Regions from separate parts of the Homo sapiens genome. Here region 1 is linked to region 2. The links come from fine-mapping of genetic effects on gene expression. Tissue or cell type: whole blood. Region 2 holds a variant in brackets; the other region holds the start of a gene. All regions are shown on one strand. Distances are from middle to middle.

What was found. PIP is the estimated chance that this variant, and not a neighbour inherited with it, causes the effect.
Region 1: GALNT8 starts here. The variant in region 2 is fine-mapped to the expression of GALNT8 in whole blood (INTERVAL, PIP 0.99). The same link has a PIP of 0.9 or more in T cells.

The regions. Positions count from the first base shown.
Region 1 is chr12:4,717,337-4,725,433 of GRCh38, reverse strand. It overlaps GALNT8 (polypeptide N-acetylgalactosaminyltransferase 8), which reads right to left and starts at 5,034. Exons shown (of 11, transcript NM_017417.2): 1 at 4,546-5,034. The coding sequence starts at 4,756. GAU1 (GALNT8 antisense upstream 1) reads left to right here and starts at 5,332. Exons shown (of 4, transcript NR_110112.1): 1 at 5,332-5,569. RefSeq lists enhancers at 2,926-3,921, 3,922-4,917, 4,918-5,913.
Region 2 is chr12:4,824,442-4,832,544 of GRCh38, reverse strand. KCNA6-AS1 (KCNA6 antisense RNA 1) reads left to right here and starts at 1,774. Exons shown (of 3, transcript NR_199077.1): 1 at 1,774-2,115. It also overlaps a transcript of KCNA6 not described here. RefSeq lists enhancers at 1,795-2,296, 2,726-2,885, 2,946-3,135, 7,633-8,103 and a silencer at 6,836-7,036. The variant G/C (reference allele first, on the strand shown) is at 4,799.

The sequences.
Region 1 (8,097 bases), 110 kb after region 2:
TTGTCACATTAATTCGGGAAACACTGCCTTAACTCAAAAGAATGAACAGATAGTGATAGACCCAGGCAGAGGATGTTTTATGCAGAAGATGCCCTCCAGGATCCATGACGTCATCTATTATTTACCTCACCTTTCCACCCAGTAAGATTTGTGCTGGAGTATCTTAGCATATGCACCTTGAACTCCCTCAAGCTCAATCTGTGAACTCAGCAAAAAGAGAGAAAAAGTAACCATTTTAGTGTTTAGTGATGATGACATTCTTCAGCACTAAATCCCACCATGGTGATCAAGGCACTCTGACATAGGATCTACTTTGTTTCTACTAATCCTCCCTTAAGCCCACACTAAACTTCAACCAGACTGACAGGATCACGTGTAGCCTGTCCAGCATCTTTCTACAAGTTAGAAGAAGGCATCCTTTTTTTCTGAATGATTGCAACTCAGGGTCAGCAGCTTGGTGAGGGGACAGCCCCATCGTGTGAATTTTCTCCGGGTAGATGCATCTCGTGCCACAGCACATGGCTTGGCAAGCAGAACGTGTGTGCTGGATTTCAGATCCATATACAGCCCCCAAGAGGGAAGCAGGGGAGTCCTGTGACTGGGAGGAGAACATGTTTGTAAAGTGACGTAAGACTGGCCCAAAAAGAAGGAAAAGGAGAAAGAGAATCACCTCTTCAAGTGGTTAAGACAAAAAGAGGATAGTCGAAAAAACTTGGGCAAAAAGTAAATGGTAGGTCTCTCAAAGGAGGCTCATGTGAACACCATGCATACTTGTTCAGGTAGAAAAAAGAAGTGAGAGCATACTGTTTACAGTGTCCCAGATGGAACACTATGGTTATTCATACTTTTCTGTCCTAAGCATACAGGGGCCACAGGGTGGTACTGGGTTCTTCCTACCTCTGAGCTCCTCTGCGTTCTTCCTTGGGGGGATATCTGATTTTCTCTTTCACTCATGGCTATCAGTGGGAGCTGGTTTGGACCTGGCCATCCTAAAGTCAATTTGAGGAAATGCACAATCCGGTAGTATGAATACAGTGTCACTAGGTTATCCCCATAACTTATACTGAAACTTTCCAAGCCCCAAAACAGACACATCCATTGACATTCCCCTAGTGGGGCTTTTATGAACCCTGAGGGAGGTTCCAGAAAACTGGCTTAGAGTCATTGATCCCTCCCTCAATAGGGATATAATTATTATTGTTTGCATTTGCTCTTGGTAGCTTACATGATTCAACTAAGTATCCTTATTGACTTCTGATTTTTTTTTTTTTTTTTTTTTTTTTTTGAGACGGAGTCTCGCTCTGTCACCCGGGCTGGAGTGCAGTGGCACGATCTCAGCTCACTGCAACCTCCACCTCCCAGATTCACGCCATTCTCCTGCCTCAGCTTCCCGAGTAGCTGGGACTACAGGCGCCCGCCACCACGCCCAGCTAATTTTTTGTATTTTTCTAGAGACGGGGTTTCACCGTGTTAGCCAGGATGGTCTCGATCTCCTGACCTCGTGATCCACCCGCCTCGGCCTTCCAAAGTGCTAGGATTACAGGCGTGAGCCACCGCGCCCGGCCGACTTCTGATTTTTTTAAATCTTCCTGGAATCCTGGAGGCAATGAGCAAACAGGATGAAGGGTAATTAAACAGGCTTTTAGTTATAGGAAGCTCTGTGGAAAAAAAAAAAAAAAAAAAGCATTGGTGATCTAGAAACAGGGCCCAGAAGACTTTTTGAGGTTCAACTCAGGTGGTAGTGAGTCTCTGACATCACAACATTTCAGAGCGAATAAAATGTGGGAGCACCAAGAATAACAAGAAAGATCTTTGCAAAAAAGGAAAGAGGAGTAAACCAGATGGCTCTGGCTGGCTCCTCATGGCACATTGTGTCCTAGCTGATGGAAAGAATAGCAGGGCTTTGGGTAGAACTCCTGCCATTTTACGGCTTGAGGAGGCTGAGCCAGTGTGATGAGCCTTGGGGATGGGTGAGACAGTCCTGGTGTGGTCTGGGTGCTCTGCCAAATAGTGAGGGTGGTGCTGGGGTCACCACCCTAGGTACACAGGCATCCTCCTGGTGAAGCTGCACCAAGCATATTTGCATGGGCAATGTCCGACCCACCCAGGTAAGCCAGGGCTTGTGGAGCTGATGATCTTCCCTCTGTTTCATCCACTCTCTTGCCCCGTATCACTCTTCCCTTCATCCCTGTCTGCCTGTCTTTTTCTCTCTCTTTCCTAGACACACCCACTCATTTATTCATCTATGGAATTTCGATGTATGAATAGAAATGAGTAGTGAATGAGACGTTCATGGAAACAGCACTTATGAAACTTGCTTTCCATAAAACTGTACCATAATAAAATATGATGAGTCTTATGAAGGAGGACGTGGAAGGTGCTATGGGTGCCTTAGGACTCCTCCTCTCTCCTTTTATTCTCTCCTTCTCTCCCATCACACTTTCCCTTCTTTTCTTCTTGTCTCCATACAAACTCTTTCACTCTCTCTCCCTGGACTCCCTCACTTCTCTGCTCCTTTCCTGTCCCAGCTCTTTTCTCCTCTCTCATCTCCCTTCTCACTCTCCTCGCTCTTTCCCTGATTTCTTCTCTCCCTTCCTTTTTCTCTTCCTGCCTTTCCTTCCACCCATCTCCCAGCCTCACCCTGAACCCTGACAATGCTCAGTTCTCATTTTAAAAGACACTTTCCCCAACTCCAGCCCCATGTGCACACACCTGGGCAGTCACATCCCTGCCCACACATAAAACACCTCCCTATGGGGTTCCAGCATTTGATCCCTGTTACCTGGGAGCAGGGGGAAATTGCTGCTTCCCTTGCTGAAGTTGGATGCACAGGCACATAAAATTCAGAGGCATTAGACTTCCATGGTGAGCCGGAATCACAAACAAACCCCAGAATGTGTTGAAATCTTACCCTTAAGTTTAAATGAGGAGGTTAAAATTTGGCACAGAGCAGTTTATAGATCACCTTCTGCATCTACTTCACAACCCTATTAGGTCAGGTTGATAACTATCACTATTGTTATCATCATCTCCATTTACAGACCAGGAACCTGAGGCTGAGAGAGAGAAGCACTTGCTCAAAGTCACACAACCACAATGGCACATCAGGATTCGATCTTAGGTCCTCTAACAAAGCCCTCATTAGTTCATGAAAGGAGCACACCGCAAAATGGAAGCGAGGCCCTTGCCCCAGAGATTGCCACCTCTCTTCAACAGCCCCTACCACACATAGGCGTGGGGAAAGGAAAGAGAGATCAGATTGTTACTGTGTCTGTGTAGAAAGAACTAGACATAGGAGACTCCATTTTGTTCTGTACTAAGAAAAATTCTTCTGCCTTGAGATGCTGTTAATCTGTAACCGTACCCCCAACCCCGTGCTCCCTGAAACATGTGCTGTGTCGACTCAGGGTTAAATGGATTAAGGGCTATGCAAGATGTGCTTTGTTAAACAGATGCTTGAAGGCAGCATGCTCGTTAAGAGTCATCACCACTCCCTAATCTCAAGTACCCAGGGACACAAAACACTGCGGAAGGCCACAGGGACCTCTGCCTAGGAAAGCCAGGTATTGTCCAAGGTTTCTCCCCATGTGACCATCTGAAATATGGCCTCGTGGGAAGGGAAAGACCTGACTGTCCCCCAGCCCGACACCCGTAAAGGGTCTGTGCTGAGGAGGATTAGTAAAAGAGGAAGGAACGCCTTTCTGCAGTTGAGACAAGAGGAAGGCATCTGTCTCCTGCCCGTCCCTGGGCAATGGAATGTCTCGGTGTAAAACCCGATTGTATATTCCATCTACTGAGATAGGAGAAAACCGCCTTAGGGCTGGAGGTGGGACATGCGGGCAGCAATACTGCTGTTTAAGGCATTGAGATGTTTATGTGTATGCATATCTAAAGCACAGCACTTAATTCTTTACCTTGTCTATGATGCAGAGACCTTTGTTCACGTGTTTATCTGCTGACCTTCTCTCCACTATTATCCTATGACCCTGACACATCCCCCTCTCCGAGAAACACCCAAGAATGATCAATAAATACTAAGGGAACTCAGAGGCTGGCGGGATCCTCCGTATGCTGAACGCTGGTCCCCTGGGCCCCCTTATTTCTCTCTACATACTTTGTTTCTGTGTCTTTTTCTCTTCCAAAGTCTCTCGTTCCACCTAACGAGAAACACCCACAGGTGTGGAGGTGCAACCCACCCCTTCAATAGGCCTAAGGACAGGTCTATGGCCCTTGGGATTCTTATTCTTCTCGTTGCCTGCACATATGTAGATATAATGATAATGCATGTGCACAAGCCCACACACGCATACACACACACATGCTCACCTCCCCCATACTGCTTGCTCTAATTTCCACTTCTACTCACTTCATTCTCAATACCCATCTCCCATTTGAAGGCACAGAATTCAGTGTCAGATGCTTCAATGAGCGACTGAGATGAAAATGTGACCTCTCACCCATTTTTCCTTCCATATCCCTTTTTCCTAAGTGCCCCAAACACACACACCCACACACACACCTTCCAGGTTAGCATTGTAAACTTACTCAGATCCTGCAATTCCACCTCCAAGTGGGAGAGTCTCTTTATCACTGCCCCGTAGCGTTTATTCAGATGTAAAGGAAGCTCCCTGTGGAGACCACCCGTAAACAGGTTTTGTAAAGTCCCCTTGCTAGAAAATACCAGAAGGAGATTGACAGCAATGGCCAGAGTCAGCCCAATGAAGAGGGCTTTGGGGAGTTTCCTCCAAAACATCATCTTCTTCCTGGGGGTCGTCCACTCCCTGTGGGACTGAGTGTGTCACTGCTGGAGCAGGTTAAGAATCAGAACCAGCCTAGCTTTTGTGGGAAAGAGAGTTCTAGGTGCCAGTTGAGTTGGTCTCCCCTGTGTGAGACACCCATGGGAAGCCACGGGTGGCCTCTGAGGAGCAAAGTCTCCTTATTGCCTTCTTTGTCTTTATGCCCCGAGAGGATAACCGCTCAGCGGCTTTCCACAGGTTGCTCAGCGGCTTTCCACAGGTTGCTCAGGGAGATAACACTCCCTTGAAGCAGAGGAGTATAATCAAACATCTTGGCTCCTCCTGAAACCCACTCCCACCCATTTCAGTCATTAAAGATCTTAAGTAGTTTAGACACACGCCTTTGCTCAAGGAAATTCACAGAAACCGCCACTGTTACACATCTTATCGAATGACTCACTGATTAATCCTTTTCCTCATCCCTTCCTCCCCTTCCCATCTGCCCTAAGAACAAAGAGCTTGTAAACCAATAAATTGGGTGGAGCCCAGAGCTCTGGGCCGTGAGCAAGCCTCCAACGCTCTGGTCCCCTGGACCTGCCTTTTAAACGCTTGTTCTGTCTCTTTCTAACTCCTTTGTCTCCGCCGGACTCGGGGTATCCGCTGGGTGGTGTGGGGCTGGTTTCCCCAACAGCTTTCTCTCCACCCAGCTTCATAGATGACACCCTGCCTGCTAGGCCAGATGTTCTCCGGCCAAGAACACTATTATAGCTGCCTGGCTTCTCCCTGAGCAGCGTCAGGTGTGAGGAGTGCGCATGGCAGCTGCCCAGTGACAGGTAAGTCACCTGGACACACCTTGTACTGTCTCAGAAGTCAGAAGAATGCTTGCTCCTGCAGCTAGCTCAGGCTGCCTGGGTGAGAGGCTTTTCTCTATATATGTTTGTTTGATGTTTAATGTTCTCTCTCCCTGGAAAAACCACCTGGGAGACTCTGATAGGGCATGTGAGGTCTGGTCCTGTGGGTATAAGAAGGGGATAAATAGGATGAAGAAGAAATCACGAAGCAAGAAGTCTCTGTACACTTAGATCCTTGCTTTTTTGGAGAGCTGGGATCTAAGATGTCTTTTTACCTAACTCTACAGGGTTTTGGACATAGTAGGTGTGCAACAAATGCTTGTCCCACAAACTTAAGGACAGACTTTCTTGCTAGTTCCTAGGACTTCACTGCCTAGAAGCAGGTGGAGAAGAGCTGGAGGCGGTGCCCGGGGTTGAGCCTCAGGGGATGACTCCGATTCACTGGTCTCTGTCCTTTGCTTGTCCTCTGCACAACTTCATACACTGGGCTTCTGCCCTGCCCCAGCTTCCAGTAACTCCTTTGCCTCCACACCTCACACTTATAATATGTTTTGGACAAATCACCAGTGATCATCATTGTAGAATAAACACATAAAATTGTTCCCCAAGGCTAAAAGTTCAAAGTTCTCAGTCTACTGTCAATCCCGTCAAAATCACAGCTTCCACCCCGGCCTGGCTCTTTGGACTATTTACTACGTCCCAAACACAGCACATGGTGACATGTGCTGAGGCGGACATGTGGATTAAAGGAAAGTAATGTGGCTTTAGGAAAAACAGGATGAAAATGAACAAAATGAAAAGGAATCACTTCTTCTGTTTCGCAGGGATAGAAAATGTCTCCCAGCCTCCCACTTGCAAATTAGACTCAAAACATAAGAAACGCATGATCCAGCCAGGCGCAGTGGCTCACGCCTGTAATCCCAGCACTTTGGGAGGCCGAGGCAGGTGGATCACCTGAGGTCAGGAGTTCAAGACCAGCCTGGCCAACATGGTGAAACGCCATCTCTACTAAAAATAACAAAATTAGCTGGGCATGGTGGCAGGCACCTGTAATCCGAGCGACTTGGGAGGCAGAGGCAGGAAAATCGCTTGAACCCAGGAGGCGGAGGTTGCAGTGAGTCGAGATCGCGCCACTGCACTCCAGCCTGGGCAACAAGAACAAAACTCCATCTCAAACAACAACAACAACAACTACAAAAAACAAACAAACAAAAAAGCATAACCCTTCTGCTTCTGGGACAAGAAGAAATACCTACATTTATCTTCTCTATTCCTTCCCATCAAGGCAAGTAAAAAGTACACATGATATGTAAAACAAACCTAAGAAGACTCTGAAAGGTAGAGAGAACAGGGCAGGCTGACTAGAGATCTCCAGATATCCTAGCTATTGTAGGAAATAGATTCCAAGTTGCTGGATGCTGGAGCAGTCAACAACTTGGAAATGCAATGGGCAGAGACAATAGAAGCCCCAAGAAAAAGCTGCTTTCTCTAACCAAAGAAACAGGAAATGGGAAGCCTAGCAAGACAGAAGATGTTTAGACAACAACTGCCCTACTCCAGCCAAATGCCACTGAAAACCTTGCAGTGCCATGCCCACCACATCCACAGAGGCCTCGTGGGGAGCCTAGACTTCCAACCTCACCCCAGCTGTGAGGGTTTGCCCCTGCATCCCCCACCTTCCCCTCCAGGGTGTGTCAGTGAAGGTCTCTTGGGGAGCTGGCATTTTTGTCATTGTCCCCACATGATATCAGTAAAGGAACAGTGGCCCTCCCCTTTTCAGCCAGTGTGGTGTCAGCAGAGGGCTAGTGGGGAACCTGAACTCCCTCCCTCACCCATCAGTAATGAGGCAGCCCTCCCCACCAGGTGTCAGTGGAGGCCAAGCATGGAACCTGGGCTTCCTCTCCCACCTGGCAGCGATGAGATGAAATCTCCCTCTCCCCACCAGAACAGTGTATGAAAGGCCTGCTAAAACAGATTTACATAGGATCCAGAGTCTCAAAAAGTTATATTCAGAATGGCCAAGATGCAATAGAAAATCACTTGTCATATCAACAACCAGGAAAATCTCAACTTGGAAGAGCCTATCAACAGACAGCAACACCAGCCGGGCATGGTGGCTCATGCCTGCAATCACAGCACTTTGGGAGGCTGAGGCAGGAGGAGGATGGCTTGATTCCCAGGAGTTTGAGAGCAGCTTGGGCAACATACTGAGACCCTGTTTCTACTAAAAAATAAACTTTTTTTTAAATTGGCATGGCATGGTGGCTCACACCTGTAATCCCAGCACTTTGGGAGGCTGAGGCAGGCAGATCACTTGAGCCCAGGAGTTCAAGACCAGCCTGAGCAACACGGTAAAACCCCATCTCTACAAAAAATTTAAAAAAATCAGCCAGGCATGGTGGCACATGCCTGTGGCCCAAACTACCCAGGATGCTAAGGTGGGAGGATCACCTGAGCCCAGGAGGTTGAAGCTGCAGCGAGCCATGATCGTGCCATTGCACTCCAGCCTG
Region 2 (8,103 bases):
ACAGAGGGGCCAGAGGTACAAGCCAATGTCCTCTGCAGCCACCCTCAAAAGAGTATCAAAAAGCGTATTGTCTCAGGAGTATCAGGCCACCGCCCCATAACCTCAGATGTGACCAGGCCTGAAGGATCTCCTTCTACCTGTGCGTCCCTGCACCTCTCACTTTATCTTACCCAGTGGGCGCACTGCCGCTGGGGTGGGGTCACAGAGGAGGCCTTGAATCAATGCTGGGTTGTAGGTTGAACAAACTTCACAAGACTAGAAAATAAGTAATAGAGAGGTACTTGTTTTTTTCACATTGCCAGAGTCTCACATTTCCCTCTCTGTCTGAGTTTTCCCAAGCCCACAAGGGATGGTCGTGGGCTGACTGATGACACCCAGGCTCTCGGGGTCTGAAGAAAAGCAAAAGAAAGGCCCCTGTTCTCTGGTCCCAACCACAAACATGAGGGCACTAAATAATTCCACAACTACACCATCTTCAGAATCAGAGCACTAGGAAGGAGAGAGCTATTACTCATTTTGACCAGGAAGCCTTGTTTTATTTAGCAATGAGTATTTGCTAAGCGTATCTTCTACTCAATAGAACACCCTCACCATGTTTCTGTGAGACCAGAGTGATCCCCATTTTATACTGGAGGAACACAAGGTGTATGAGAAATGTGCCCAAGATCTCAATACTAGTGACTCGGAGAGCCAGGGTTTGAGCCCAGATCAGTCTGATACTGAGACCTGTGCTCTCTCTGTATATAGTATGCAAGAACTATCATTTCTTCAAAGTCTGAGCTGAATGGAAGCTCTCATAAGAGATTATTTTCAGAAGCTCCGTGTCTTAGCCAAGGGAGTAAGTGAATTAACACACTGGACTCCAAAATCCAGCTCTGTTATAAAGTAGTCATAGTAGCCACGTGGCCTTGGGCCAATCAAGTCATCACTCAGGACCCCAATTCTTTTTGGCATTTACAAAAGGAGAAAGCGGAGCTGGAGGATGGATCCGACCCCTTCCAGCTCCCATGGCTGGGAGGTTTTCCATCTCTCCCATAGAGAGGCTAGCCCAGACTGAACCAGAACGTTTTTTTCCTGACTAACGGTTTCTAGGAAAGAGGCTCATGCTGGCTGGCTCTCAGGCTCAACCCTGGTCCAATCCACTGTCAGCAGGACGGGGTCAAGCAGGTACTAACTTGGCTGGCTGCTTGTGGGTGATAACGAGTTATTGTGAAGGACTCTTGGGCCCTCTGATAGCTGCCTGACAATGCCCAACCAGAACAGTAAAGATCCACCAAGCCAGCCGCTCCGGGCCACATGCAACTTCAAGGACCACTTTGTGCATCTGCACCAAGGCTCCCTCTGTTTTGAGAAAGGAGAGCTCGTCGGTCCCATATTCCTCCGCAGTCCTTGCAAATCCTCTCACCTGGCAGGAAAGCCACTTAGGGTTGTTGTATAAGAGGAGGAGGCACAGCGGAGACCAGCTTTGTTGGCAGAGAGCTTACCTTTCCTGAAAGTCAGCGCTGAAAGATCAAAAGTCACTGAGGACCCTGCTGACTCCCCCACACCAACTCACAAAACCAACAACCCGTGGTGGGCAGGGCCTGAGAGAGGAAAGTGAACGATATCCTGCAAAAGTCTGCTAGGGGGTGGCTTCGTCTCAGTTGCAAGGCTGCTGAATAGGTAGGTAGGTAAAGGCCATGGGGAGAATCAGCATTTGGAACTCTTCCCTGGGTGCAGCGCCCCTGCCCGCATTGCCTGCAAGGCAAACCCCGCCTTCTCCCGCAGCCTCCCACTCCGCCCAAGCAGCCCAGGGACAGAGGCTGCAGGATTCTGACACAGGAAGTCTACAGTCACTGGGAGCCTCTCCAAGATACAGCCTGTGTGAAGGAAAAGGTCTGGACAAGGAGAGGAACAGTAAAGAGAAACAAAAGTCCTCGGTTTGAATGAGGAGAGATTTTGAGCCCGCAGCGGGTTGCGGGGTGGAGGATGGCGGAAGGGGCAGATGCCGTTACCGGGTTCTGTTTCTCTTTCGCTGGCCACCTTGTTAAGCTCCCATTGGCCAGGTGTCCGGAGTGGGACTCACCACTGCAGGGGGCTCCAGCCCCACACAGCCGCCTCCCAGGAAGGACTCAGGTGGGCTTTCAGGTTATCCGCGGTGGGATGCAGGGGTGAAGGAAGCTTTGGTGGTGGATGTGAGAATTTGGGATGGGGGTGTGGAACTTTACTGGCTCCTGCCATGCAGCGTGCACAGTGCTTTCTGCAGGATGGCATCGAAGGGGCTGGAGCTGGGGGGCAGCACGTCTCTGTCCTCAGACCACGGTGGAGGATGTGGACTGTCCAGGCTCCAAGCTGTCCATCCCTCAGTGCCATGACCTAACCGTTAAGTGGGATGGAGCATGGGAGGGGAACGCAACTGCACCTTTCAGAGAGAGGCCCTCTGAGCAGGAAGAGTGGCTGCAGTAGAAAAGATGTGGCTGAGAAGGGGAAGAAAGAGCCTCGCGAGCATCAGCACTAGGAGAGGCAATTGATTTCATCCTGTGAGTCTCAGGGGAGTGGAGGCTGCCCCTTCCAAAAGAACTGGCAGGACTGGCCATGAGCCAAGTAGGGAACAGCTGCTGCTGACTGAGGGAGAAGCTGTGCAGCCTCGGGCAATTCAGTCAACCTCTCTCGGCCAAGGACAATATAATAATGCCTGCTTTACTGACCTTAGTGAATTGTTACGATGTTCAATGGTGAAAGAGAGTTGTAAAATGTGAAGTGCAATTAAATGTATAGGTGCGATATTATCAGCAGAACTTCTTGGGCTGGAGGTACCCAACTATGGCTGCACACAAGAACCTCTAGAGACTTTTTTTTTTTTAAATCCTGAACTTGGAAACCACCCTAGATCAGTTATTCAAATTAGGGCAGGCAGTGAGCAGAAGGACAGGAAGTGGTACTTTTTTCAAAAGAATCTGGTGATGCTGATATCCTATGAAGGTTGAGACCTGCTACCTAAGACTTCCCCAAAATCCATGAAGGTGATCACTCAGAGCACATGTTTTTTAAAAAGGCATATTCTCAGGCTTCTCCCAGATCTTCTGAATCAAAATTTCAAGGGGTCCTGGCAACCTCTATATTTAGCGAGCAATAAGAGCAATGTGGACACGTTATGCCAGTGAAAAGTTTGTCGATTAGCTCCTTTTCTACTGGATAATCATATCCAGCAATGCTTCTGGACAGCACAGGCAAATCAGCTCAAGGAGGGGAAGCACCCTCCTCAGACGGTAAGTACAGACATGCTTTGGGGGGATGGGGTTACAGTAGACAGCCAAATCCCATCCTATTCCTGCTCCACCGGGGTGAAACTCCAATTATAAAATGACACATTTCCCAGCCAACGTGCCTGGGAACCTTAAGATAAAAAGGAAACGATGATGAGTTATCTATAACTAACAGCATCAATTATGAGTGCTTTATTGTGTCAATAGATTGTTCAGGCTTTCTTGCTTCACACACTGCGGACTCTGTTCCATTCATAAAATTATACAAACACTTGCATATCCATGCACATGCACTCACAAACACAGAGACCCCAAGCTCGTCAAACACACAAATGGGAGGACGAAGAGGATGACAGGAGCCGGTGAACTCTTATCAGGCAACTGCATTACTCCGTTCTAGCATTATTTGCAGGATTCCATGCTACATTAGCGATGTTCCCAGGTAACAGGACCCCAGGGATTCTTCATTTTAGCTCTTTCATCCCACAGGGGCAACACTAGTTTAGCAGATAAGAGCACGACTCTGGAGCCAGACTGCCCAGGCTGAAATCCTACCACCCCACTTACTGGCTGTGTGTGACTCTGGGCAAGCTACTTCTGTGAAATGGAGATAATAACGGGGCAACTGGGACGATTAAATGCGCTGGTACACATAAGCCCTTAGAGACATGCCTGGCAAACAAGATGCTATGTGAGTGTCCGCTGCTATCAGTGATTGTTGTTTCTGTTGTTGTTTTACTATAGGTGAGAAAGGTGATACCTAGAAAATTAATTGCTCACTTTGTTTACATCTCTTGACTCTTTTAGGAGTATAGCCAAGGAAGGAGTCATAAATGTGAACAAATATCTACACTACAAGTGTTCGTTGTAGCACCGTTCATTAGAAGCAACCTGAACGTCCAATAGGAAGTGGGTTACCAAAAGAATGCTGCATCTCCATGACGGCTATGTAGTAATTGCATGAGAAAACTAGAGACATAATATGAAGCTTTTCAGATGAAATGCTGAATGATCTCTATAGATATACAGATACAGACATAGACAAAGTTAGTCTGGGGGAGAAATACAACCAAGTTCCAACACTGAGTGTCTCTATAGAGATACAGATACAGACATAGACAAAGTTAGTCTGGGGGAGAAATACAACCGAGTTCCAACACTGAGTGTCTCTATAGAGATACAGATACAGACATAGACAAAGTTAGTCTGGGGGAGAAATACAACCGAGTTCCAACACTGAGTGTCTCTGGTGGGGGGGTTATGGGATTTTTATTTTCTCCCTTATACTTTTCTAAATTGGGGTAATTTTCGATGATGAGCAGATATTCCTTTTAGAGTCTGAAAATAAAGCGTTCAATTGAAGCAACTTACTCAAGGTCAAACAGCACATTAGGAGCCCACACAGGCTTCCTATCCCTGTCCAGGGACTGTGAGGCTTCGTGAGGCTGCACTAAGAGTAGGAAGGAAAGCTGAGAGGGATGAGAATGATGAACACACACCGAAAAGCAGCAGGACCTTGGTGGAGCTGTGCAGGGCTAAGCCCCAGCTCGGAA[G/C]CTTCCCAGGGCAGAGCTGTGAGGGCAGAGCTAGACACTTTTCCATCCCAGAGCCACTTTGCGGCACAGTGAGGTGACCTAGGCACTACAATCGAATGCCTGCCCTTGGGGCTGCTCACTGCTGTCTCCCAGAAATGGAAGAAGCCAGCTTCTACTTTGTCTAAGGATACCAGAGAGTAACACCAACCTTTCTTTCCTTTGTCCTTTCTACAGACTTCTTCCTCTAGTGTGGAATCTGAGACCCAGGGAATACTGGTTCGCATCCCTGCTGGGCTGCACTCCCCTGCTTCTCCTTAATATAGAAATGTCTTTTCTTGCCCAGCATTTTCCCCATCATAATGCCAAGGTGCTTGAAACGGCCAAAACCAAGGAATGTTTATTTTGCAACACCGAAATAAAGAAGGATCTGGAATCACTTAATAACTAGGATAGGCTTCATCTAAGAAAAATAGAAAGGAAGGAGGGAAGGAGGAGGGAAGGGCGAGAGAAAGGAAGGAAGGAGGGAAGGAAGGAAGGAGGAAGGAAGGAAGGAAGGAAGGAGGGAAGGAAGGAAGGAAGGAGGGAAGGAAGGAAAGAAGGAGGGAAGGAAAGAACGAGGGAGAGAGGGAGGGAGGAAAAGAAGGAAAGAAGGAGGAAGGAGGGAAGAGAGAGGGGACGATGGAGGGGAGGAGGGAGGAAAAGACGTAGGGAAGGAAGCAAAGAGAGGGAGGAGGGAGGAGAGGAGGAAAGGAAGGAGGGAGGAAGGAATAGAGGCAGAAAGGAAGAAGAAGGAAGACGTTTATCATTGCTTGACAGTAGATAAAAACTATTGTCTCTCTTTCAAAACTTTGCTACAACCTACTCAGTATATTTTTAAATGTAAGTTCTGATCTTTGTAAAATAATAGACTGGAGTATATGAGCTCTGAAATTCAGTGATTCTACATAAAGTTGAAAACCTAGTAACTCCAACTCTCTTTTTCAAAGATCACTCCAGTGGCAAAAGCCAAGCAATAAAGTCTGTCAAGTTTTCAGGCAGCCAGCTGCACATCTGATTAATACACTTGGGTATCCGCAGAATTTTCAAGCAGAAACCCAGTCGTTGAATCCAATGACCTCACTTTACAGTGAAGACTCTGGTGGGAGAACAATACTAATGGCTACCATTTGCTGAGGGCCAGGCAGGTGACATGTGTAGGGTCACACAGCAGGTTAGTGACAGACCCAGAATTGGATGCAATCCTCACCCACCCCACAGTCCACTTCTTCTGACTTTTAGTGGCTTTAATACCAGAAACTTTTCCTCATGGCTCAAGATGTACAGAAAAGGAATCGGTACAAAGGCAACAACAGGACAAGAGCAATTCCCTCCTTTCTGCTTTTGCCTCTGAGCACAGAAGGGACACCATGGAAGAAGGAATTTCAGCCTGGACCAGTTGGTGAGGAGCAGACAGCAAACCTCAGGCCTTGCTAGATGAGCAGAGGAGGGTCAGAGGTAAGAGCCCTCAGCAGCACCAAAACAAAACAAAACAAAACAAACAAACAAAAAACACCTAGAAGAAAACAGCTTTCCAGGAGACTGAAATCCAAGCACCAGAGGAACCAGGTCCAACTGTGGTGTGTCAGCACCAAAAATGCCTTGGGAGAAAGGACAAATGTCACACTTGAAAACAGTGTTTAGGAAGATGGAAAAGAATACTGAGAAAACCTGGTTACATACAACTCACTGCTGGTATTTGCATCTTTCTCAGATTGTGAGTAAGATTTCATAAATAGGATAGTGAGTAAAGGTTATCATCAATGTTTTCATCAAAAGGTTTTAGTTAGAAAAGTGATCGTAAAAAAATCCATGTTACAATTTTTGATTTGGTTAACAACGTGCATAGGAATTGGCTGTTACAGTGTAAGGCAAAAGCCATGCAGACGACCTCATTTGCCTGGCAGAGTGCATCAGAGCTGTGGACATTTCCTAGCAAGGTAGCTCTAAACCTAACAAATAAGACCAACTCTTACTGTTATTTTCTCAAAGACTTCTATTTAAGAAGACTTATAAGGACTATAGGGAAGAGGATGTGTTTTATCACATTACTCAGTGCCTTATCAAAACCACTTCCGTTTCTGAACAACTCAAGAGGGGTGTGAAGAACTTTAAGAAGGTTGATAAGAAGCCACAGAATGGTCCAACTGAAAAAACCTTTCATGGCTGAGGGTCCATGCACTCAAATCCATTGCAACAAGCTTCAGATCTCTTCGAGTTTTCCAAAATGTATTTGTTGGATGAGTTTTGGGGGTATGTGAGCAGACATTACTATAAAAGGGGGATGGAGATTCTGTGGTAAAAATTTTTAAAAATGTAAGAAGTTGAAAAACACTGGTTTAAAGAAGTGAAATAGTTTTACTGCTGCAGGACTTCTCAGAGCCTTTAATTTCATGTTCAGATGCATTGTGCATCTCCAAGAGGCAGCATTTCTGAAACATAGTGCCTGGGGATTCTTTCTCCATGGAAAGTTGCGTAGGACTGATGTTCTGCAGATCACATTTGAGGAACTCTGGCATGAGTTATTCTAGGTAACATGGTCACTTGAGTATCCATTTCAGCAGAAGACAAAACAGGAGGAAGGAAGTTTAAAGTGCAGCAGGAGATGTGTAACTGAGAAATGAGGAAAACATCCTGACAAAGGGTGCTCAAACACAAGTAGCTTGAAGGAGTCTATATTATGGATTCTCTTTCTCTGGGCATTTTTCAGAATAAGCCTGGAATAATCTAGACATTTTTCTAATACACAGCAAGGCAATTAATTCCATGACTTTTAGAATTCTCTTCCTGCTCAATTATTTCATGTCATCTGTCCTTATTCTCTATTGATATATTAAGTGAGTTCAGCTGACTGGCTTGCAAATTAAAGACATCCCTGAAATGTTGAAGGTAAAGCCAATACATCCTCTGTAAGTTGAGTCTGTTTTCCACAGATTGGTATTATAATTGCAAAGAAAAGTGTTGACCTTACGCATCGGGGAGGAAGCATCCTACCTACACCCTTGTGCATTTCTTCCCGTTCATTCTCCCGCTTACGGCAGCCCACAGGTCAGCCAAGTGAATAGCTGAGTCATGAGATGCTTCCACACTCAGTCATTCAACCTCTCTGTGGATTCCCAAGTTTTCTGGAAGTTCTCGCTGATCTCGGGGATTCTCAATGGGTAAGTCACTTCATTGCTCATGTTCTTTCTTTAGGAATTTAACAAAATCCCTGGATATTCTCTGCTGCTGGCTTTTTTAGCAAGGAAACAGTTTCACTCTAAGAAGGTAGTAAGCCCCTTTACATGAGT